Linked DNA regions of Homo sapiens: region 1 is linked to region 2. The links come from fine-mapping of genetic effects on gene expression. A gene starts in region 2. The other region holds a variant in brackets. All regions are shown on one strand. Distances are from middle to middle.

Region 1 (5,375 bases), 32 kb before region 2:
AAAAATAAATAAATAATAAAAGAAAAAGACTCTTGCTCTGCCTTAAGAAACCTACAGGGGATAGGGCTGGGCGCGGTGGCTCACACCTGTAATCCCAGCACTTTGGGAGGCTGAGGCGGGTGGATCACAAGGTCAGGAGATCAAGACCATCCTGACTAACATGGTGAAACTCTGTCTCTACTAAAAATACAAAAAATTAGCCTGGCGTGGTGGCGGGCACCTGTAGTCCCAGCTAGTCGGGAGGCTGAGGCAGGAGAATGGAGTGAACCTGGGAGGCGGAGCTTGCAGTGTGCCGAGATGGCACCACTGCACTCCAGCCTGGGCAACAGAGCGAGACTCCGTCAAAAAAAGAAAAAAAAAAAAGAAGCCTACAGGGGATAATTAGCCAGGCATGGTGGCACACGCCTGTAATCCCAGCTACTTGGGAGGCTGAGGCATGAGAATTGCTTGAACCTGGGAGGTGGAGGTTGCAGTGAGCCAAGATCGCGCCACTGCACTCCAGCCTGGGCAACAGCAAGATACTCTGTCTCAAAAAAAAAAAAAAAAAAAAAAAGAAAGTAACCTATGGGGGAATGGTGAAAAGACAAGCACAAAACTCTTCGGTTTTCTTATTTGTACATTGAAGATGTTGTACCCAGAGCTCTCTAAAGCCCCTGGTAACTTTATTGTTCACTGATGCTCAATTAATAGAATTGCATTTTGCTTCTCTGCCTCCCTCATCTGACCATCTGACTGTGAAACCCCTGATTACAGGAACCATGTCTGGTCTACTCTGGCGCCATCAGAGCCTACCACAGTGTGTGGCTCAATACATCTGCTTGCCAAGTGAACACATGACTTATGCAGAGCTCAGCAAGGGGCACAAGAGAGGTTCAGATAACGCTCTTAGGGTGTCTAAGAGGGGCTGTCCAAGGTATATCTTTTATGTCTGTCAACCAGACTGGAATGCAGTAGTCATGCAAGCTGGAATGCGATCACGGTTCACTGCAGCCTTGACCTCCTGAGCTCAAGCAATCCTCCCACTTTAGCCTCCCAAGTAGCTGGAACTACAGGCATATGCCACCATGCCCAGCTAATTTTTAAATTTTTTGCAGAGACAAGGTCTCCTTATGTTGCCCAGACTGGTCTCAATATTCTGGGCTCAAGCAATCCTCCTGCCTCAGCCTCCCAAAGTGTTGGGATTATAGGCGTGAGCTATCTTGCCTGGACAATAATTTTTGAAGGTTGCAATCAAGGAAAATAACAGAAATGTTGGTCCATCATTTATCCAACCACTATACCATCCTGCCAAGTAGATTGGGCATTGTGGCAGAGAAGAGGAGAGGAAAATAGCATTTAATGGATGTATCCTTTGTGTCAGGGGCTCTCTGTGGTAATAAGAACTATCATTTATTAGCCTCTATAGACCTGGCACTTCACATGTGTGATCCTACTGAGTCCTCGCAACCACTGTATAGGGTAGGTGCTATTATTATGCACATTTTATTTTATTATTATTATTTTTTATTTATTTTTGGGACTGAGTCTTGCTCTGTCGTCCAGGCTGGAGTGCAGTGGCATGATCTTGGCTCATTGCAACCTCCACCTCCCTGGTTCAAGCAATTCCCCTGCCTCAGCCTCCTGAGTAGCTGGGATCACAGGCACATGCCGCCACATCTGGCTAATTTTTTTGTATTTTTAGTAGAGATCGGGTTTCACCACGTTGGCCAGACTGGTCTCAAACTCCTGACCTCAGGCAATCTGCCTGCCTCGGTCTCCCAAAGTGCTAGGATTACAGGGGTGAGCCACCGCGCCTGGCCTATTATTATTTTTTCTTTTTTTCTTTTTTTAATTAGAGACAGGGTCTCACTATGTTATCCAGTCTGGTGTCTAACTCCTGGCCTCACATGATCCTCCTGCCTTCGCCTCCCAAAGTTCTGGGATTACAGTCACGGGCCACTGCACCTGGCCTATTATCCACATTTTAAAATGGGGAAACCAAAGCTAGGGAAAGATTCCCAATAGCATTAAGTGGGGAGTTATAATTGTAATTTACTCCTCTCCCAATTCCTGTTCTTTATAACCATTTGGTTACCAAGCAATGAAAGCAGCCTAGCTCTCACATCTAGAGTTCACAGGCTGGTTGGGGTGGCAGTAAACAATCCCTGTGGCAATCAGTGCCATCATCCAGGTATGGTCAGGAGCTATGGGAGTCCAGAGCCTGGCAGACTATAGTCATGTCTGAGAGGCGAGTCAGGGCCAATTTTCAGGTGAGGTGACGTTGGAGCTGAGTGCTACAGCATGAGCTAGAGTTGACCAGGAAGCTGAGGGTGGCTGTTCAGGCCAAGCAAGGCCACAGCAGCTACAAAGGCACAGGGGCAAGTAAGAACACGATGTGTTTGCTCTAGATGCAGGCAAGACCTGAGTCACTGATGTGTCGGAAACTGCTGCATCAGTACAGGAAAGAAACCATAAGGGTTGAAACTAAGAATGTGGCAGCGGGGGCAAAGAGGGAAGGACAGATTGGAGAAGGTATCGGGGAGGTAGAATGACACGTGAAGGCTAGCGGTTATGAGGGGTGAGCACGGTTGCCGTGTACAGTTGTGAAGTATGTGGACTGCTTAGTTTCCCAGATGAGGGGTCTGAAATCCAGTCTTCATTGGTGCCTTGTAGAGAAGAAGAGTTGGCCTTTTATTTTATTTTATTTTATTTTATTTATTTATTTTTTTTTAGGCGGAGTCTAGCTCTGTAGCCCAGGCTGGAGTGCAGTAGCACAGTTTCAACTCACTGCAGCCTCTGCCTCCCAGGCTCAAGCAATTCTCCTGCCTCAGCCTCCCAAGTAGCTGGGATTATAGGTGCCCGCCCCCACGCCCAGCTAATTTTAGTATTTTAGTAGAGACAGGGTTTCACTATGTTGGGCAGGCTGGTCTCCAACTCCTGACCTCAGGTGATCTGCCCACCTCGGCCTCTTAAAGTGCTGGGATTACAGGCGTGAGCCACCACGCCTGGAGTTGGCCTTTTTCTCATTCCCCAGTGACACCATAGAGGCATATGATGCGTACAGGTATACGAGGCTCAGAGGCATGGAGGCAATGACACCACAGAGGAAGTGAGAATCAATCGCTCCCAGGAAGGCAAGATTCCAGAATACGAGTGTGTCTAAAGAAAAGACCATCTCTCAACATCTGAACCAAAAAGCTGCATTTACTACAGTACTTACTTAAGGGAGGTGGAGCTGGGCCTGTTAGGTGCAATCCCTGTGAGTGGAGCAGGGCACTGATCTTATATAAGGTGCTAGGAGGTTGAAGATCAATGGTGGGCACATATCAAGGGAGGTAGTGTTTAGGGATTGGTTGGCCAACCAGTGTGGCTGTTACCGATTGGCTGGTGTCAGATGTCTGGTCACTGAGGAAAA[T/C]TGTTCAGCTGAAGGGAGAGGAATTGTCTTTAAGTGGCTTAAAACTGGTTATGGTGGTGACTTGTTGCCATGGCAGCAGAACAGTCTTTCCTGTGGGTATGAGCTTTTTTTTCCCCCTCAAGTGACTGTAGCTCAAAACATTCACTCTCAGAGGTTGTTTTCTTTTATAAAGGACCATGTTGGCTCTGGGGAGGGAAGTTCACAGGCTGGCTAGGGTCAGAATACTTGCCTGGCCCAGGTATTCAAAGGTCCAGTTTGTCACCTCTCCAAGATCCTGTGGCTGAGGTGTTTCCAACACAGGGAATCAGGGAAGTTAGTTGCATTGTAAGGAACATACCTAATCAGAAATGGGACCTAGGGCTGGGTGCAGTGGCTCACACCTGTGATCCCAGCACTTTGGGAGGTCAAAGCAGGAGGATCCCCTGAACCTAGGAGCTTCAGACCAGCCTGGCCAACATAGTGAGACCCCATTTCTTAAAAAAATAAAAAAGCCCGGGCGCGGTGGCTCACGCCTGTAATCCAAGCACTTTGGGAGGCCGAGGCTGGTGGATCATCTGAGGTCAGGAGTTCGAGAGCAGCCTGACCAACATGGTGAAACCCTGTCTCTACTAAAAATACAAAAAATTAGCTGAGCATGATGGCGGGTGCCTATAATCCCAACTACTCGGGAGGCTGAGAAAGGAGAATCCTTTCAACCCGGGAGGCAGAGGTTGCAGTGAGCCGAGATCGTGCCACTGCACTCTAGCCTGGGTGTTACAGAGCAAGACTGTCTAAAAAAAAAAAAATTAGCGGGGTGTGATGGCACATGTTTGTAGTCTCAGCTACTTGGGAGACTGAGATGGGAGGATTGAGCTCAAGAGTTTGAGCTCAGGCTGCGGTGAGTCATGATCACACCACTGCACTCCCACCCACAAGACACAGTGAGACCTTATCTCAAAAAAAAAAAAAAAAAATCAGAAATGAGACCTAGGATCCCGGACTCCCAGTCACTTCTTCCGTAAAGGAGAAGATGAGGTGCTGGTGGGCAGTGTGGTGCAGCTGGCCAGACCTTACAGCCAGCTTTTGCCCCTGCCTTCTCCACAGAAGCCTCTCCTTGGTCTCTCCTTTATGTCTCTCCTTGGGCTTAGTGGGAACCACATGTGTTTGCCCAACCACAACCCTAAGAACCATCCCTGGAGCTGCCATGGGAGGTTCTGAGCTCTGTCAGGACTAGGGTAAAAGCAGACGGATGCTTTTCTGCAGCTCAGTGGCCACTTAGATCCACCAGAGCTACCCGCCCACTTCACTCCCATTGAGCAAAGGCTTCTGGTAGGTAGGCTCGGGTGGGTTTGTTTTTTAAAATAATTGTTTAAAACTTTTGGTCAGGTGCGGTGGCTCATGCCTATAATCCCAGTACTTTGAGAGGCCGAGGTGGGTGGATCAACTAAGGTCAGGAGTTCAAGACCAGCCTGGCCAACATGGTGAAACCCTGTCTCTACTAAAAATACAAAAATTAGCTAGGCATGGTGGCACAAATTTGTAATCCCAGCTACTCGGGAGGCTGAGGCAGGAGAATCACTTGAACCCAGGAGGTGGAGGTTGCAGTGAGCTGAGATCGTGACACCGTACTCCAGCCTGGGTGACAGAGTGAGACTCTGTCTCAATAAAATAAAATAAAAAATAAAGTGTACAATTCAGTGGTTTTTGGTATCTTCACAGATGTGTGCAACATCACCACAGTCAACTTTAAAACATTTTTTGGCACCTCAAAAAGAAACCCCACACCCTGTATTTATCACCCCCAACCCTGCCAGCCCCTGGCAATCACTAATCTACTTTCTGTCTCTATAGATTTGCCTATTCTGGACATTTCATATAAGTAAAATCATAAACCATGCAGTCTTTTGTAACTGGCTTCTTTGGCTCAGCATAATGTTTTCTTTTCTTTTTCTTTTTTTTTCTTTTTTGAGATGGAGTCTCGCACTCTCGCCCAGGCTGGAGT
Region 2 (5,375 bases):
TGAAGCAATCCTCCTGCCTCGGCCTCTTAAAGTGCTAGAATTACCAGTGTGAGCCACTGTGCCCTGCCAGAAATAAATTTATGTAGCTTGTGGCTATCATACTGGACACTGCAGTTCTGGTATGGTCATGATTTCAGTATTGAATGGGCATTCTAAGCATGGAGGTCAGGACCAACTTACCTTACAGGTTACAATAGCTCCCACATCTGGCAGTAACTGGGACTCTGTTTCTCTCACTACAGACACCACTGGAAGCTACAGAGGGAACAACAAAAAACTGAAATGTCCTGACTAACCCTTGGGTCAAGGCATTTGTGGCTTGAGAGTAATATAGGAATGTCTTGGTATAAAGGTGAGAGTTGGAGTATGGATTCATTTATAGCCCAGAGCAGAAGGCCTTAGAAATTTTAGGAAATAGGAGGACCAGGAGGCTACAGAATGCTGCTAGAAGACATACATCTCTAAACTTCTTTTTTTGTTGTTGGAGACGGAGTCTTGCTCTGTCGCCTAGACTGGAGTGCAGTGGCACGATCTCGGCTCACTGCAAGGTCCACTTCCCGGGTTCACGCCATTCTCCTGCCTCAGCCTCCCGAGTAGCTGGGACTACAGGCACCCGCCACCATGCCCAGCTACTTTTTTTTGTAGTAAATCTCTAAACTTCTAATAAGTTTTTTGGTGATTCTCTCAGAATTTCTTGGTATACAACTATATTGCCTATAATCATTGACAATTTTACTTTTTTTGTTTTTTTTTGAAATGGAGTTTCACTCTTGTTGCCTAGGATGGAGTGCAAGGGTGCCATCTTGGTTCACTGCAACCTCCACCTCCTGGGTTCAAGTGATTCTCCTGCCTCAGCCTCCCGAGTAGCTGGGATTACAGAAGCCTGTCACCATGCTCGGGTAATTTTTTGTATTTTTAGTAGAGATGGGGTTTCACCATGTTGGCCAGGCTGGTCTCGAACTCCTGACCTCAGGTGATCCACCTGCCTTGGCTTCCCAAAGTGCTGGGATTACAGGTGTGAGCCACTGCGCCCTGCCGACAATTTACTCTTTCCTCCAAAGTTATACTGCTTCCTTCTGTTTCTTATTTTATTGCACAGGCTGAAATTTCCACAAAAATGTTACATAATAGCGGCTATGCTTGTTTTCTTCTATTTTAAGTGAATACTTGCAGAGTTTTCTCTTTGAGCATGGTATTGGCTGTTGGTATAAGACAGATATTTTGAGCCTCATCTTTTATCAATCTCTCCGTTGCTCACAATGCTTCAGCTCTCCTGGCCTTCTTTCAGTTTCCCCAACTTACTAAATTCTTCCCACTTTCAGATCTCTCTTCAACCTATTCTTTCTGCCAGAGCTGCACTCTCTCCACCCACCTGACTCTTACCTACTCTTTAGATGATTCAGCTTAAATGTCACTTCTGCTGACTAGGATGGGTTTGCCTGTTACATGTTCTCAAGGTGCCCTGTAATATTCTTTCAAAGCACCACCACATATGTAACCATATGCTCATTTGAGCATTTATTTGTTTACAATTTGTGTCTGTGTCCTTTGATAGCAGAAACCAAGTCAGCGCTGTGCCTGACACATGAAAATACTCAAGTGATATCTATGAAATGAACAAACTCAGGACTGTTAAGAACATTCCCAACAATGACTGAATAGAAAGCCCCTTGAATCAGACAGCTTAAGTTACTTACTCAAAGCAGAATCAAAGTCAAGTTAGCCAGAACGTAACTGTTCTAATTCTGAATCCTCTTTCTATTGTGCTCCTTCAAATATTGCTTATATGATCCTGAGCTAATCCTGGATCTATCTCTGAAACTAGAAAGGTAGGTATTACTCACACATTCAACATTTATTGAGGAGCTGCCTTGTGCTATATACGGATGGTATGGTGGTAGGGCCTGCTTTCACGGACTTAGATTTAAGCAGGGGAGAAGTCTAGTAGGAAACATATACCTGAGTGTCTCATCATATGCTGACATAGTGCTTGGAAGAAAAGGAACAGAGTTTTTTGTGAGTCTTTAACAAAACAAACAAAAACAAAACACCCCACAAAACTCCTTTCCTCAATTAGTGGGTCCAGAAGGACTTCTCTGAGGTGATAGTAGAGAAGCTATCTAAAGGAGGTAGGAATTAAATAGGCCTAGGAAGATAGAAGCGTTCCAGATAGATGGCATGTTACAAAGGCTCTGTAGCAGGAGAAAGCTTGGCGCATTACCGACACTGAAAGAAGCTAGTATGTTATAAAAAATTTTTAAAGGGCAAGCAGAGACTGTGATTATAACTTTTAAACACAGAAAAGACAGTATGACTAGATTGCGTCAGTGAGGTGGAGATAGTGGCGCTAGATAAAGTCGGAAAGGTAAGCAACATTCATACAGTATGCAACTCACTGCTGGGCTGAGCTGGGCTGGGATGGGATACTGAGTTCGCATCTGCTTTTGTCCCAACTTCCCTCCCCGAGGGTCAGCAGCACAACCAAGCGAGATCAACACAACTAGTGTGTGGTGGCTAAGTGCACCACAGCGGCGATACGGCTAGAAGAAACTAAGAGACCAACATTGTACCACTGAGGCACTAAAGACGCGTCCGCAGTGCCCATGCCTAAGGACTGGAACTCAAGGGCAGCCTAAGGGAAAAACAGAGGGGAGATGGCATGCCGCTTCCTTTACCGCGCCATTCTCGCTGCTCTTCATCAGACAGCCGGCAAGCGACGAAAAGATGTAGCCGTGGCGGGTGTAGGTGCCGCTGCCCGGGCTGCCCTCCTCCAAGTTACACAGACGTTCGCCTGCAGAAAAAATGCTGCATCGGTCACGGGCCCCCAGAAGCTGTAGGCCGTTTAGCCTTCTTGCTTCAGCCCCTATCCAGGACTCTGTACGGGAAGCGCTCACTTACCGGGGATGCAGTATCTCACAGGTGGCGCCATGATTGCCGCTGTCCCAAAACCAGGATGAAAACGAAGTCGATTTCTCATTGGCCAAACCCAGGCACAGTTCCGCAGTAAGACACGTGTCAATTGGTACTCTTTATCCTTGCGAGTAAACTCCATTTCCCAGGTTACCCCGGGACAAATCCGGGGGCGGAACTTCAGAGGTCCACGCTGGCGCCTGCGCGTGTGGTTGAGGATGGGCTGGCGGCGGGTCCGGGTCCGCTGCCTGGCGCTGCGGGCGGCGGGCCATGGTGGTTTGGATTGAGCCGGGCCCGGCCGGGGCGCCGAGTCGGAGGGGGTGGCAGTGAGCGGCGGCAGAGGCTACGGGGCTCGGTTTGGCTGACTGGGGAGTCGGCAGGCGGCAGGTAAGGGCGAAGCCTCGGCCCTTGCTCCCCATCCTAGTCCCTTTTTCTGGGTAGGGCACTGCCCTGGGGCCTTGTCTTGAGTGCGGGTTCCTGCTCTCTCCTCGCCCCGCCCTGCGGGGCCGTGCCCTCCTCAGCCCGAGCGCACCTTCCGAGCAATCGTTACGCTCAGAGCAGGAGGGAAGGAGGTCAAGCGACCCAACTCGTCTGTTTCACAGATATGGAACCTCAGATTCAGAGACAGGGTTTGACTTGTCCAAAATGATCAAGATAGTTAAGATAGAGCCCAAACTGGAACCCACGGTTTTTGACTTCCAGTCCATCGCAGTTTCACCTCGCGGCTGTCATTGAGAAATAAAACCTTTTCCCGGTTTTTTTGTTTTGTTTTTGAGGAGTCTCGCTCTGTCGCCAGGCTGGAGTGCAGTGGAGCGATCTCTGTTCACTGCAACCTCCGCCTCCCGGCATCAAGCGATTCTCCTGCCTCAGCCTCCCGCGCAGCTGGGACTTACAGGCGCGCGCCACCACGCCCAGCTAATTTTTGTAGTTTTAGTAGTGACGGGGTTTCACCATGTTAGCCAGGATGGTCTTGATCTCTTGATCCGCCCGCCTCGGCCTTCCAAAGTGCAGGGAGTACAGGCATGAGCCACTGCCTCCGGCCTTTTCCCGGTTTTTTAAACTGCAGCTTCCAGTCCTGCGGTCCGATCCTCTTCGCGGCCCCTCATCCCCACTTCAGTAAGCTTTCTCTGGTTGAAAAAGCCGAACTCTGGTTGTGTGGGCCCGTCATCAAAAGATAAGCAGCCCCAAAATAAAGTTGTTACTCTTTTTCTTCTCAGCGTGTTAGCCCAGAAGGGAGGTCTGCACATGAATAAAATGCTACTCTTTATTGATGTTGGGTATCTCCTACTTGAGATTGCAAACATCCTGAGAGCAGCGTCTTTGTCCAGATGACATTCGCCACGACTTTGATCTCAGTTCACCTGACTTCTGATGGCTTTGCCGTCTGTCCTTCCCTGTCCCCTCAGTCGACTTTCCCATTGGGAAACAGATGTGACTTAAAGCCATGGGAAGAGGGGAGTGTTGTGGCCAGCAATCTCCTCCAGTCTGGTGGCAGATGACCAGTATGGCCTGTGACTATTACTGAAGGATCAGAGTACTCGGGCTTGTGCTTGGGGTGGTAGTAAAGCTGCGCTTTGCTCTGTTTCCTCCCGTTCACTGAGATTAGCCCCTTCTCCCCTACACACATCTTTTTGAATTTTGCTTTACTTCTATTTCTTGAGATGAAAAGTCTGGGCCAGGTGCGGTGGCTCACGCCTGCAATCCCAGCACTTTGGGAGGCTGAGGCAAGCACATCACCTGAGGTCGGGAGTTTGAGACCAGCCTGACCAACATGGAGAAACCCGGTCTCTACTAAAAAAATACAAAATTAGCCAGGCGTGGTGGCACATGCCTGGAATCCCAGCCACTCAGGAGGCTGAGGCAGGAGAATTGCTTGAACCCAGGAGGCGGAGGTTGTGGTGAGCCCAGATTGTGCCATTGCACTCCAGCCTGGGCAACAAGAGTGAAACTCCATCTCAAAAAAAAAAAAAAAGAAAAGTCTGTGTGTTCAGTTGCGGCCCACTTACTACATATGTAATTTTCCTGGCATCCCATACCCCATTAGCTAATGGAGAGAGGCCCTAGCCTCAGACTTTGTTCACCCAAATCTGTATCTGTGCGTCTAGGAGCTTTCTGTTTACACGGTTGGGCTGATTTCTGGTTGGGCTTGTTTTCAAAAACGACTTCTAGCTCCTAAGTGCCATGATTTTAATAACAGTTTGTATTTCTCTCTTTATGAATCAGGAAGAATGATAACAGCAGACACTTATTTAGTGTTACCACATTGGCAGGAGTGTCCTTGCTGGTATTTGTAGGACAGATAGACATCTGGCCAGGCTTTCCACTTCTGCATCCCTCCAGGTCATTCATTCAACAAATATTTATTGAGTACTTCCATGAGCCGGGTATTGTGCTAAGTGCTTTATAAACATTTCATTTACACTTACCAAAGAAGTTTGCTCTTCATACCTGTGGGTTTCACATTG

What was found.
Region 1: its variant is fine-mapped to the expression of EXOSC1 in whole blood (TOPMed, PIP above 0.99).

What each region holds. Positions count from the first base shown.
Region 1 is chr10:97,410,719-97,416,093 of GRCh38, forward strand. No RefSeq gene overlaps it. Among named protein-coding and RNA genes, the nearest start is that of RRP12, 12 kb to the left of the region's middle. The variant T/C (reference allele first, on the strand shown) is at 3,395.
Region 2 is chr10:97,443,057-97,448,431 of GRCh38, forward strand. EXOSC1 (exosome component 1) reads right to left here and starts at 2,950. Exons shown (of 8, transcript NM_016046.5): 1 at 2,899-2,950; 2 at 2,676-2,791; 3 at 181-255. The coding sequence starts at 2,929. ZDHHC16 (zDHHC palmitoyltransferase 16) reads left to right here and starts at 3,119. Exons shown (of 12, transcript NM_198046.3): 1 at 3,119-3,297. RefSeq lists enhancers at 2,079-2,659, 2,660-3,239 and a silencer at 3,171-3,380.